Linked DNA regions of Homo sapiens: regions 1, 3 and 4 are each linked to region 2. The links come from fine-mapping of genetic effects on gene expression. A gene starts in region 2. Each other region holds a variant in brackets. All regions are shown on one strand. Distances are between the middles of the regions. Region 1 overlaps CYP4F22 (cytochrome P450 family 4 subfamily F member 22). Region 2 holds the start of CYP4F22 (cytochrome P450 family 4 subfamily F member 22). Region 3 has its middle 4.5 kb from the start of PGLYRP2. Region 4 overlaps CYP4F22 (cytochrome P450 family 4 subfamily F member 22).

Region 1 (2,702 bases), 30 kb after region 2:
CCAGAGCGCTGACATTATGCATGTGAGTCCTAAGGCTTTGAGGGAAGAGGGTGTCTTGGGAGTGAGGCTGGTCCAGGCTCCAACTCATGCATGGGCAAGCCATGTGATGTCAGGAGCCCTCACTGACTTTATCTATAAAATGAGCTTGTAGTGAAAACGCAGTCGGGTCCTTGTTAGGCTGACTCCCTCTCTGTGGTTTCCATGCACAGTCACCATGTATCTCTCTTCCAGGCTAAATGGCGGCATCTGGCAGAGGGCTCAGCGGTCTCCCTTGATATGTTTGAGCATATCAGCCTCATGACCCTGGACAGTCTTCAGAAATGTGTCTTCAGCTACAACAGCAACTGCCAAGAGTGAGTGTGACCCTTCTTGGGAAGATGGAGCCAGCTGCTCTAGGAGCAAGATGGTGGCAGGAGAAAGGGAACTCCCAGGCATTAGACAACTCTGGCCTATGGGAGCTCTGCCACGGATGGGCCATGTGCTTCCGGGAAACTGACCATCTCTCTGAGCTTCACTTTTTTTTTTAATCAAAAAAATGGGCATCATAATTCCTTCCCCATAGTCATTGTGTGAGAATTAAATGAGATAATGTGAATCAATGGCTTGGTATAAAGTAGGTGCTTAGTAAATGTTAGTATTTTTTCATTCCACTAGGAAGAGTATGTGGTCTTTGGACAGTGTCCTCCCCACTTTCTGAGGCTCAGTTTCCTTGTTTGTAAAAAAAGGATGACAATCTCTTACTTTCTGAGAGATGCTTTAAGGATAAAATGATGCAGCACTGCCCTGGCACATAGTTGATGCTCAGAGAATATTTGTTGAGTAAATGAATCAAATAACCAATGCCTTGCTTCATTAATTCATTCATTCATCAAATATTCATTGTGCACCTACTACGTGCCTGGCACCATGATATTGCTGCTGAGAACAGGGTGGTGAACAACAGACAGTCACAGTTCTGTGAAGTTTATAGTCTAAGTGGGGACATAAGGAATAAGGGAGATAATTAATGCAAAACTTGCAACACATAGTAGGTCCTCAGTAACAAGCTAATGACTTCGTTACTCTAGGCATTATAGGGGCACGTTCCAGTTGGATAAGGCAGAGATTGTCTTAGAAATTAAATAATTAATTCATCCAAGAAATATTTACTGAGTGCCTAGTAAGTGCCAACCCTGAACTAGGTGCTGGGAACACCATATTCAACAAGAAAGACAAGATGTTGCTTTTCTAGAGCTTCCATTTTAGTAGGAAGACAGGTAATAACCATGAACAAGTAAACAAACAAGAAAACGACAGACTGCAATAAGTGCATGAAAACAAGCCCACTTCAGGACTGAGGACAGCTCCCTTCAAGCCTGCTTCACCTGTTAGTTTTTAAAAAATAATGGCTTTGTTGAGACACAATTCACATACTATACCATTTACTCATTTAAAGAATACACCTGAACTGCTTTTAGTATATTCAGAGTTGTGCAACCATTACTATAATCAATTTTAGAATATTTTCATCAATCCTCCCCCACCCCAAGAAACTTCATACACTTTAGCAACCCGTGCACTTCCCTTTCTCCTTCAAGTCTAGGCAATCACTAATCTATTTTCTATCTCTATAGATTTGCCTGTTATGGATATTTCACACGGATGGAATCATACAGACTTTTGTGTCTGGCTTGTTTCACCCAGCATAATGTTTTAAAGGCTCATCCATATTGT[G/A]GCATGTATCAGTTATGTATTTCTTTTCATTGATGAATAATGTTCCATTTACCACATAATACCACATTTTGTTTATCCAGTCACCCATCGATGGACACTGTTTCCACTTTTCGACCTTTATGAATAATGCTGCTATTAACATTCATGCACAAAGTTTTGTGTGAACATACATTTTTAATTCTTTTGGCTATATACCTAGGAGCAGAATTGCTGGGTCATACGGTAATTCCATTTTAAACATTTTGAGGAACTGCTAAACTTTATTTCAGTGGGTTTCAACATGGTATGAAGTGGTTGTACCATTTTGCTCTCCCAACCAGTGATGTATGAGAGCTCCAGTTTTTCCACATACTCACTAACACTTGCTTTTTTTTGTTGTTGTTGTTTTGTTTGCTTTTTAGAGATAGGATATTGCTCTGTTGCTCAGGCTGGAGTGCAGCCCAACACTTGTTATTATAAGTTTTGATTTTAGTCACCTTAGTGGGGTGAAGTAGTATCTCATTGTGGTTTTGATTTGCATTTCTCTGGTGACCAGTGCTGTTAAGTATCTTTTCACATTCTCATTGGAAATTTCTGTCTTCTTTGGAGAAATGCCTATTCATATCCATTGCCCATTTTAAAATAAGTTTTAAGAATTCTTTATTTATTTTAGGTACCAATCCCTTATCAGATAGACAATTTGCAAATATTTTCTCCCATGCTGAGGAGTGTAACCATTTAGTTTTAGTGATGCTACAATGACTATGCCTATGTTGAAAGTCTTTATCCCTCTTTGGGCCTGTTCAAAAATATACCCGAGACTGGGTGTGGTGGCTCAGACCTGTAACCCAGCACTTTGGGAGGCCAAGGCTGGAGGATCACTTGAGCTCACGAGTTCAAGGCTGCAGTGAGCTATGATTGTGCCACTGTACTGCAGCCTAGGTGACAGAGCAAGACCCTATCTAAAAAAATAAATAAATGAATTTAAAAATAGAGTTAATATAGGGCTT
Region 2 (2,702 bases):
CCAACCTCTCCATGCAGTCCCAGCTCAAGTGTCACATCCTCCACGTCGCCTTCCCTGACCTCATGTCTGCCTCCTCCAAGCAGCAAAACTTCAATTACTTGTGTCTCCTCTTCTTCACCAGGAGACATGCCCCACACCTCCCACGCCCTCTTTCCAAGGGCCCAGCACCAAATGAGAGCGTATTCTTAGAAAAAAGAGGGATAAGGAAGTCTTCTAAGTTTACCACCTGCTGGGGCAAGTGGAGATTCTTGTCTTCTCATCTGTCTGCCCACGTGCTAAGGTCAGCCACACATCCACCCACCGACTCCGGAGGACAGACACATCCAGAGGCGGAGCTGACTCTGTCTCCACACATCTGGAGTAGACGGGTTGGCCAAGGACAACATCCTGGTCAGAGGGTCAAGGTGTCTGGCAGTGGGTGGGGAGGAGTGGCGGAGGGCGGGTTGGCGGGGAGCAGAACCAGTCTGGTGCTGCTTGTTGAGGTTGGAGGTCTTCCTGGAGGAAGAGGCTGCAGAGCCTCCAGGGGTGGGTGCCGGGGAAGCTTAGGCCCAGGATCCAGAGAGAGGGGAAGGGCTGGTTCCCAAGGGCTGGTGGAGCCAGAGAATTCCTGAGGGCCCCAGAGGAGGCTTCTCGGGGGGGTCAGTGGGGCCCCAGGGGGTGATGGTTTAGAGATCGCTGTCCAAGCTTGGGAGCAAACCTGGAAGTAAGGGCCATGGGGGGTGTTGGTGTGGGAGGAGTGTGGTCCAGAGCGGGACTTGGGCGCTAATGCGGCCCAGCAGTGGCAGGAGGGCGGGGAGCCTGATGGTTTGGGACTTCTAGGTGTCCAAGTCTCTGTCTCTCTTCATCTCTCCATCTCAGTCTCAGTCTCTCTCTCTTTCCATCGCTCTCCACCCCTCCACACGCCTATTTCTTGTTCTCTCCTTTTCTAGGGGGCAGCGCTGGAGTCCCCGCCCAGAACCCTGCGGGAGCCCGGGGCGGGATGTCCGGGGGCGGACCCCTCGGCACGGCCGGGCGGGGTTAAAGGGTTGGGCCGTGGGACGGCGCGGTCAGATCCCAGGTAGTGGCGCCGGTGGATCCGGATCGAGGGCAGGAGGCTGAGACCCGCGGGTGAGTGCGCGCGTGGTGAGGGCTGTAACCTGAGCGCGGCCGCGGCGCTGCGCTGGAACCCGAGGCTCGCGCGGTTCGGTGCTGGCGGGGCAAGGGCGAAGGTCTGCGCGCGGCGGCGGGCGGGGCGCAGCCGGCCACGGGGACCCCCCCAGGACCCAGGACGGGGCTGCATGCCCGGGGCACTCGTGGGGAGAGGGGCACGTGGGTGTGTCCCCGACGTTTGCTGCATTTGTGAGTTGTTTTCTTTTTTTTTTTTTCTGTGTGCGCCTCGGAGTCCTAGGCGCATCCTTTTCTCTGGGTATCTGTGATGGGCAGGGGGCCTCCAAAAGACCCCTCTGGTAGTCAGGACATCCCAGATGGGTTCAAGCCCCGCCCTGGGACGCCTCTTTGGGGCTGAATGGGGATTCGCCCTGAGATTTCACCACTGCACGTTGTCTTGACGGGGAGGTTGTAGTACATTCAACCGATGGGGTTAGGCTTGTGGTTCAACTGCTATCAGGAACCCTCTGCCCATCCATGCCAGACGCAGAGCCCCTCTATGAAAAGACGGTGTTCTTCTGGCCCCGAGAGTTGGCTCTGAGGGTTGTGTGAGGTCCTGGGGTTGGTCCCAGGTGATCTTCGTCTGATAGATGCTGGAAGGAAGATGTTTTCTGGCCTCCCAGGGGCCTGGCCCAGCCTGGGTATGCAAGTTGGCCGAGGCTGGCCACCTGGGGAGTCGCAGGCTGGAGAGGCCTAGGCTCAGGGCATCTCTCCTGGTTCATCTGCCCGCTCACAGCTCATTCATGCACTCATTGTGAGTCTCACCGCCCTGTAGGCAAAGGAGATGGCCAGGGCTGGCTGCGTACCCGAAATTCCTCCTACCCTGTGCCCCTTGCTCCACCCCTTATTTCTAGGTCCTGGAGCTGTGCCCAGCCAGGGCTGGCAGCATCAAACTCCTTCTTGTGTAACTCCAAACCCCAAAGAGAAGGAACCTCCCCAAATCTTCCCTACCACCCTCATTTTACAGGCACGGAAACTGAGGGCCAGAGAGAAGAAGCCTGTGCCTGTGGATACCCAGTGCCCAGTGGGAGAGCTGGGATTTGAAAAAACAAGCCCTGTTTGACCCCAAAGCCTCAGTCCACTTTCCGATGTCCCCGGCATCACCAAATGGCCCAGCTTGGGTTTCTGAACAGTAACATTAACTCTGGCCTGGTGTCTGGCGGTGACCCAGGTTGGTATCTGCAGAGGGGCTTGGATGACTTGAGAGGCATTCAGGGAATGGGACCCATCTCTCCTTCCTTCCTTCCTTCCTTCCTTCCTTCCTTCCTTCCTTCCTTCCTTCCTTTCTTTCTTTCCTTCCTTCTTTCTTTCTTTCTTTCTTTCTTTTCTCTGTCTCTCTCTCTTTCTTTCTTTCTTTCTTTTTTTGTTGTTGTTGTTGAGACAGGGTCTCACTTTGTCACCCAGGCAGGAGTGCAGTGGCATAATCATAGCTCACTGCAGCCTCGATCTCCTGGGTTCAAGCAATCCTCCTACCTCAGCCTCCTGAGTATGGAGGACTACAGGCATGCACCACCACTCCTGTCTACTTTTTGTATTTTTGGTAGGGATGGGGTTTC
Region 3 (2,611 bases), 25 kb before region 2:
TTCTCTTTCTTTCTCTTTTTCTCTTTCTTTCTGGCAGAGTCTCATTCTGTCCCCCAGGCTGGAGTACAGTGGCGTAATCTCAGCTCACTGCAGCTTCCATCTCCTGGGTTCAAGCGATTCTCCTGCCTCAGCCTCCTGAGTAGCTGGGATTACAGGTACCTGCCACTATGCCCGGATAATTTTTGTATTTTTAGTAGAGATGGGGTTTCACCATGTTGGGCAGGCTGATCTCGAACTCCTGACCTCAGGTGATCCATCCACCTCAGCCTCCCAAAGTGCTGGGATTACAGGCATGAGCCACTGCACCTGGCTCGTGGATTTTTTCCAATAAGTTACATGGAGTGTGTCTGCCTCTCCTCTCTCCCCTTCCACCTCCTCCACCTCTTCCACCTCTGCCACCCCTCAGACAGCAAGACCAACCCCTTCCCTTCCTCCCCCTCAGCCTATTCAACATGAAGACGATGAAGATGAAGACCTTTATGATGACACACTTCTACTTAATGAATAGTAAACATACTTCCTCTTCCATACGATTTTCTTAGTAACTCTTCTTTTTTCCCAGGTTCAGGTGATTCCCTCGCCTCAGCCTCCAGAGTAGCTGGGACTACAGGCATGCACCACCAAGGCTAGCTAAGTTTTCTATTTTTAGTGGAGATGGAGTTTTACCACATTGGCTAAACTGGTCTTGAACTCATGACCCCAGGTAATCCACCTGCCTTGGCCTCCCAAAGTGTTGGGATGACAGGCGTGAGCCACTGCACCCCACCTGATTTCCCTTTAAAGCTTGGAGTTGGGGCAGAGACTGCCTTGTTTTAAGCCAGGGGCATGTCATGGATGGCAGGCTCTTTCCTTAGGGTCTATGTAGGATTTGTGACCTTCTGGGGCAGGACCCTTCCTCCAGGGAGCCTCTGTGGTTACCCCTTGCTCCCCTTACTCCTCCCAGCTCCCTGACCTGCTGTTCTTCCCTTCAACCTAGGCTGTGCTTACAGTGCTGGAAGGTTCTTTGTCCAGTTTTGTCTCCCCAAATCTAGGAGATGCTGAGTTTTTGGGGCTGTCCAGAAGTGCCCAGCACAGACTCAAGACCAAGTGAGTGTCAGGGAGGGATTGCTAAATGCACAAAAAGCCTGATGAATGATGTGGGGCCAGTTTGGGGTCAGGATCTGAAACACACACATGTACACCCACATTCAGGCACTCACACACCAATGCATCAGGGCTGGGCTGGGCCTGGGAGGCAGAAAGAAGGCTGGAAATCCCACAATGAATCACCTCTACCCCAGGTTTCCTTCAACCTCAGGAGGCCCACTTGTC[A/AG]GATAAATCAAGGCCCCTTGGCCGGGTGCGGTGGCTCACGCCTGTAATCCCAGCACTTTGGGAGGCCAAGGCGGGCAGATCACCTGAGGTCAGGAGTTCAAGACCAGCCTGACCAATATGATGAAACCCCGTCTCTACTAAAAATACAAAAATTAGCTGGTGTGGTGGCATGCACCTGTAATCCCAGCTACTCAGGAGGCTGAGACAGGAGAATTGCTTGAACCCGGGAGGCAGAGGTTGCGGTGAGCTGAGATCGCGCCATTGCACTCCATCCTGGGCAACAAAAGCAAAACTCTGTCTCAAAAAAAAAAAAAAAAAAAAAAATCAAGGCCCCTCCAGGCTGCAGAGAGACTAGAGGGGTCACAAGAGTAGCCACTGATTATGGAGCAGGGCCGGCTCTCATGAGTTGTAGCATTGGCACAGATAGGCAGAGCCTCTGGCCCTAGATCTTAAGCAAGGCTGGGATGAGGCCAGAGGAGAAGGAACTTGGGGCAGGGCTGGGCTTGGGCTCAACGTCAGAGTCGACAGCGTTCACTATGGTGGCACTAATGATGCTAATAATGAAGACCCCGCTCGCTACTACTGTTACAGGAATGGGGTCCCGATCCAGACCCCAAGAGAGGGTTCTTGGATCTCGCGCAAGAAAGAATTCAGGGTGAGTCCACAGAGTAAAGTGAAAGCAAGTTTATTAGGAAAGTGAAGGAATAAAGAATGACTGCTCCATAGGCAGAGCAGCCCTGATAGCTGCTGGCTGCCTTTTTTTTTTTTCAGACGGAGTTTTGCTCTTGTTGACCAAGCTGAAGTGCAATGACATGATCTCGGCTCACTGCAACCTCTGCCTCCTGGGTTCAAGCGATTCTCCTGACTCAGCCTCCTGAGTAGCTGGGATTACAGGCATGTGCCACCACACCTGGCTATTTTTTTTTTTTTTGAGACGGAGTCTCGCTCTGTCGTCCAGGCTGGAGTGCAGTGGCGCCATCTCCACTCACTGCAAGCTCCGCCTCCCTGGTTCATGCCATGCTCTTGCCTCAGCCTCCCGAGTAGCTGGGACTACAGGCGCCCACCACTATACCCGGCTAATTTTTTGTATTTTTTTTTTTTTTTTTTTTTTTAGTAAAGACAGGGTTTCACCGTGTTAGCCAGGATGGTCTCAATCTCCTGACCTCGTGATCCACTCGACTCGGCCTCCCAAAGTGCTGGGATTACAGGCGTGAGCCACTGTGCCTGGCCTAATTTTTTGTATTTTTAGTAGAGATAGGGATTCACCATGTTGGCCAGGCTGGTGTCAAACTCCTGACCT
Region 4 (2,702 bases), 21 kb after region 2:
TATGTGGTAAAGATAGCAACAGTAGTAATATCTTATTACTCACATAGCAAGTACTTGATAAATGCCAACCATGATCATTATTGTGTTTATCATTACTATTTTTATTTTTATTTTTTAAGAGACAGGGTCTTGCTCTGTCACCCAGGTTGGAGTGCAGTGGGGTGATCATAGCTCACTGCAGCCTTGACATCCCAAGCTCAGGTGGTCCTCCTGCCTCAGCCTCATGAGTAGCTGTGACTACAGGCATGTCCCACCAAGCCTGGCTAATTTTATCTTCTTATTTTATTTTATTTTTTTTTTTTGAGGTGGAGTTTTGCTCTTGTCGTCCAGGCTGGAGTGCAATGGCATGATCTCGGCTCACTGCAACCTCTGCCTCCTGGGTTCAAGCGATTCTCCTGTCTCAGTCTCCTGAGTAGCTGGGATTACAGGCGCCCACCACCAAGCCCAGCTAATTTTTGTATTTTTAGTAGAGATGGCCTTTCACCATGTTGTCCAGCCTGGTCTCGAACTCCTGACCTCAGGTGATCTGCTTGCCTTGGCCTCCTGAAGTGCTGGGATTACAGATGTGAGCCACTACACTTGGCTACTATTTTTAGCTATTGAACATCAGCCATGGGTCAGGCCCATGCTGGGGCTCTTGCTTTGTTATTTCATGAATCCTTTCTACTGCCCTCAGAGGGAGAGTTGATTCTCCTCCATTTTTTCAGATGAGGAAATGGAGGCCCAGGGAGGTGCAGCCAACTGCCTGAAATCATAATGTAGCACTATTGGGCTTGTTTTGAGACTACAGGAGGTGGCAGGAGGAAGGCAGTGGGGGAAGCTGGGGCTGGGTACCTCCTCATTGCTCCTCCCTTACCTCTTGCAGTACCTTCCAAATGAGGCGGGCCTTCAAGATGAGAAGAAGGTACTGGACAACATGCACCATGTACTCTTGGTATGGATGGGACCTGTCCTGCCGCTGTTGGTTCTGGTGCACCCTGATTACATCAAACCCCTTTTGGGAGCCTCAGGTACGTGGGCTGGGCCTCCGATCTATGGTTGAGTCCTCAACTCCCAGAGCCTATCTGAGATTCTAGGCAGGTGGGATATCCAGAGGAAGGGTCATTTGAATAGGGCTTTGAAGGATGAATAAGAGTTTGGCAAAGCAAGCATGGCAATCCAGATTGTGAGAACAGTATGGGCAAAGATGTGGCAATGACTAAGAGTTCCAGAAACTTCGAGGGAATGTCCATCCATCTGGCAGTCAGAGCCAGGCACGTTTGGATAGGCAGTTGTTCCTTATGGTTTTGTTAAGTAAGTGTTACTCAATCCCTGGCC[G/A]TGGCACGCCCATCATTTGGTTCTGACATTCCCATTATGGCCAGGACTCTTGGTGACTCAGCCTGCAGCCTGCTGTCATCACTTGGGCTGACTCTGACTGGCAGGGAGGGAGATGTGGAAGAATTCCTTCTTCCTCGTGCAGTCCACACCTATCCCAAGATGTGAGACTTCCAAGTCTGCTTGGCAAGCTCTTGCTCAGCCTTCAACACCCAGCTCCAATGGCCGCCTCCTCCAGGAATCTTTCCCTGGCTTCCCAGACAGACCTATTCTCAGTCCTAACCCTTTGGACCTGGGTATGTCTGTGTCCAGCTCTATCTTCCTCATGAGCGGGACTCTGGATCCTCAGTGTGGCCTTGTGTACCTGGTGTATTAGTCAGTTCTCACGCTGCTATGAAGGACTACCCTAGACTGGGTAATTTATAAAGGAAAGAGGTTTAATTGACTCACAGTTCCGCAGGGCTGGGGAGGCCTCAGAAAACTTACAATCATGGCGGAAGGGGAAGCAAACACGTCCTTCTTCACATGGCAGCAGGAAGGAGAAGTGCCAAGTAAAAGGGGGAAATTCGTTAAATCTCGTGAGAACTCATTCACTATCATGGGAACAGCAACATGGGGGTAACCGCCCCCATGATTCAATTACCCCCCACCGGATCCCTCGCATGACACATAGGGATTATCGGAATTATAATTCAAAATGAAATTTAGATGGGACACAGCCAAACCATATTACCTGGGCACCTCCAGAGGTATCGGGACATCTGAGAGAACTCACTCTCAAATGAACCAATGAGCTCCAGTAGGTCAGGCATGGTGGTTCACATCTGTAATCCCAACACTTTGGGAAGCTGAGGCAGGAGGGTTGCTTGAGGCCAGGAGTTTGAGACTAGCCTGGGCAACACAGCAAGACCCTGTCTCTCGAAAAAAATAAATAATTACCCAGTGGCAGTGATGTGCACCTGTAGTCTCGGCTACTTGGGTGGCTGAGATGGGAGGATCACTTGAGCTCAGGAGTTTAAGACCAGCCTGGGTAATCTAGCAAGACCCCATCTGTACAAAAGCATTTAAAAATATTAGCTGGGTGTTGTGGTGCATGCCTGCAGTCCCAGCTACTCAGGAGGCTGAGGTGAGAGGATTGCTTGAGCCCAGCAGATGGAGGCTGCAGTGAGCTATGATTGCACCACTGCTGTACTCCAGCCTGGGTGACAGAGCAAGGCTTAGTCTCTTAAAAAAAAAAAAAAAGTGGGAGATTCCAGGAATTTTAGGATCTCTGTCCCAGCTTTGCCTCTACAAACACGCATCTGGGGACCATCTCCAGGGCTGCCACCCAGGAGCTGTGAAAGAAGCTGCCATCTTCCCCTTCCACAGCTATTCCCTCTCAATGCCTT

Evidence for each region. PIP is the estimated chance that this variant, and not a neighbour inherited with it, causes the effect.
Region 1: its variant is the best candidate, but not a certain one, in a credible set for the expression of CYP4F22 in whole blood (TOPMed, PIP 0.77).
Region 3: its variant is the best candidate, but not a certain one, in a credible set for the expression of CYP4F22 in monocytes (TOPMed, PIP 0.53).
Region 4: its variant is the best candidate, but not a certain one, in a credible set for the expression of CYP4F22 in esophagus mucosa (GTEx, PIP 0.83).

What each region holds. Positions count from the first base shown.
Region 1 is chr19:15,537,641-15,540,342 of GRCh38, forward strand. CYP4F22 (cytochrome P450 family 4 subfamily F member 22) reads left to right here. Exons shown (of 14, transcript NM_173483.4): 6 at 1-22; 7 at 232-353. Among named protein-coding and RNA genes, the nearest start is that of CYP4F22, 30 kb to the left of the region's middle. RefSeq lists a silencer at 1,265-1,465. The variant G/A (reference allele first, on the strand shown) is at 1,714.
Region 2 is chr19:15,507,477-15,510,178 of GRCh38, forward strand. CYP4F22 (cytochrome P450 family 4 subfamily F member 22) reads left to right here and starts at 1,049. Exons shown (of 14, transcript NM_173483.4): 1 at 1,049-1,107. RefSeq lists an enhancer at 693-1,193.
Region 3 is chr19:15,482,678-15,485,288 of GRCh38, forward strand. No RefSeq gene overlaps it. Among named protein-coding and RNA genes, the nearest start is that of PGLYRP2, 4.5 kb to the left of the region's middle. The variant A/AG (reference allele first, on the strand shown) is at 1,312.
Region 4 is chr19:15,528,844-15,531,545 of GRCh38, forward strand. It overlaps CYP4F22 (cytochrome P450 family 4 subfamily F member 22), which reads left to right. Exons shown (of 14, transcript NM_173483.4): 4 at 866-1,010. Among named protein-coding and RNA genes, the nearest start is that of CYP4F22, 22 kb to the left of the region's middle. The variant G/A (reference allele first, on the strand shown) is at 1,318.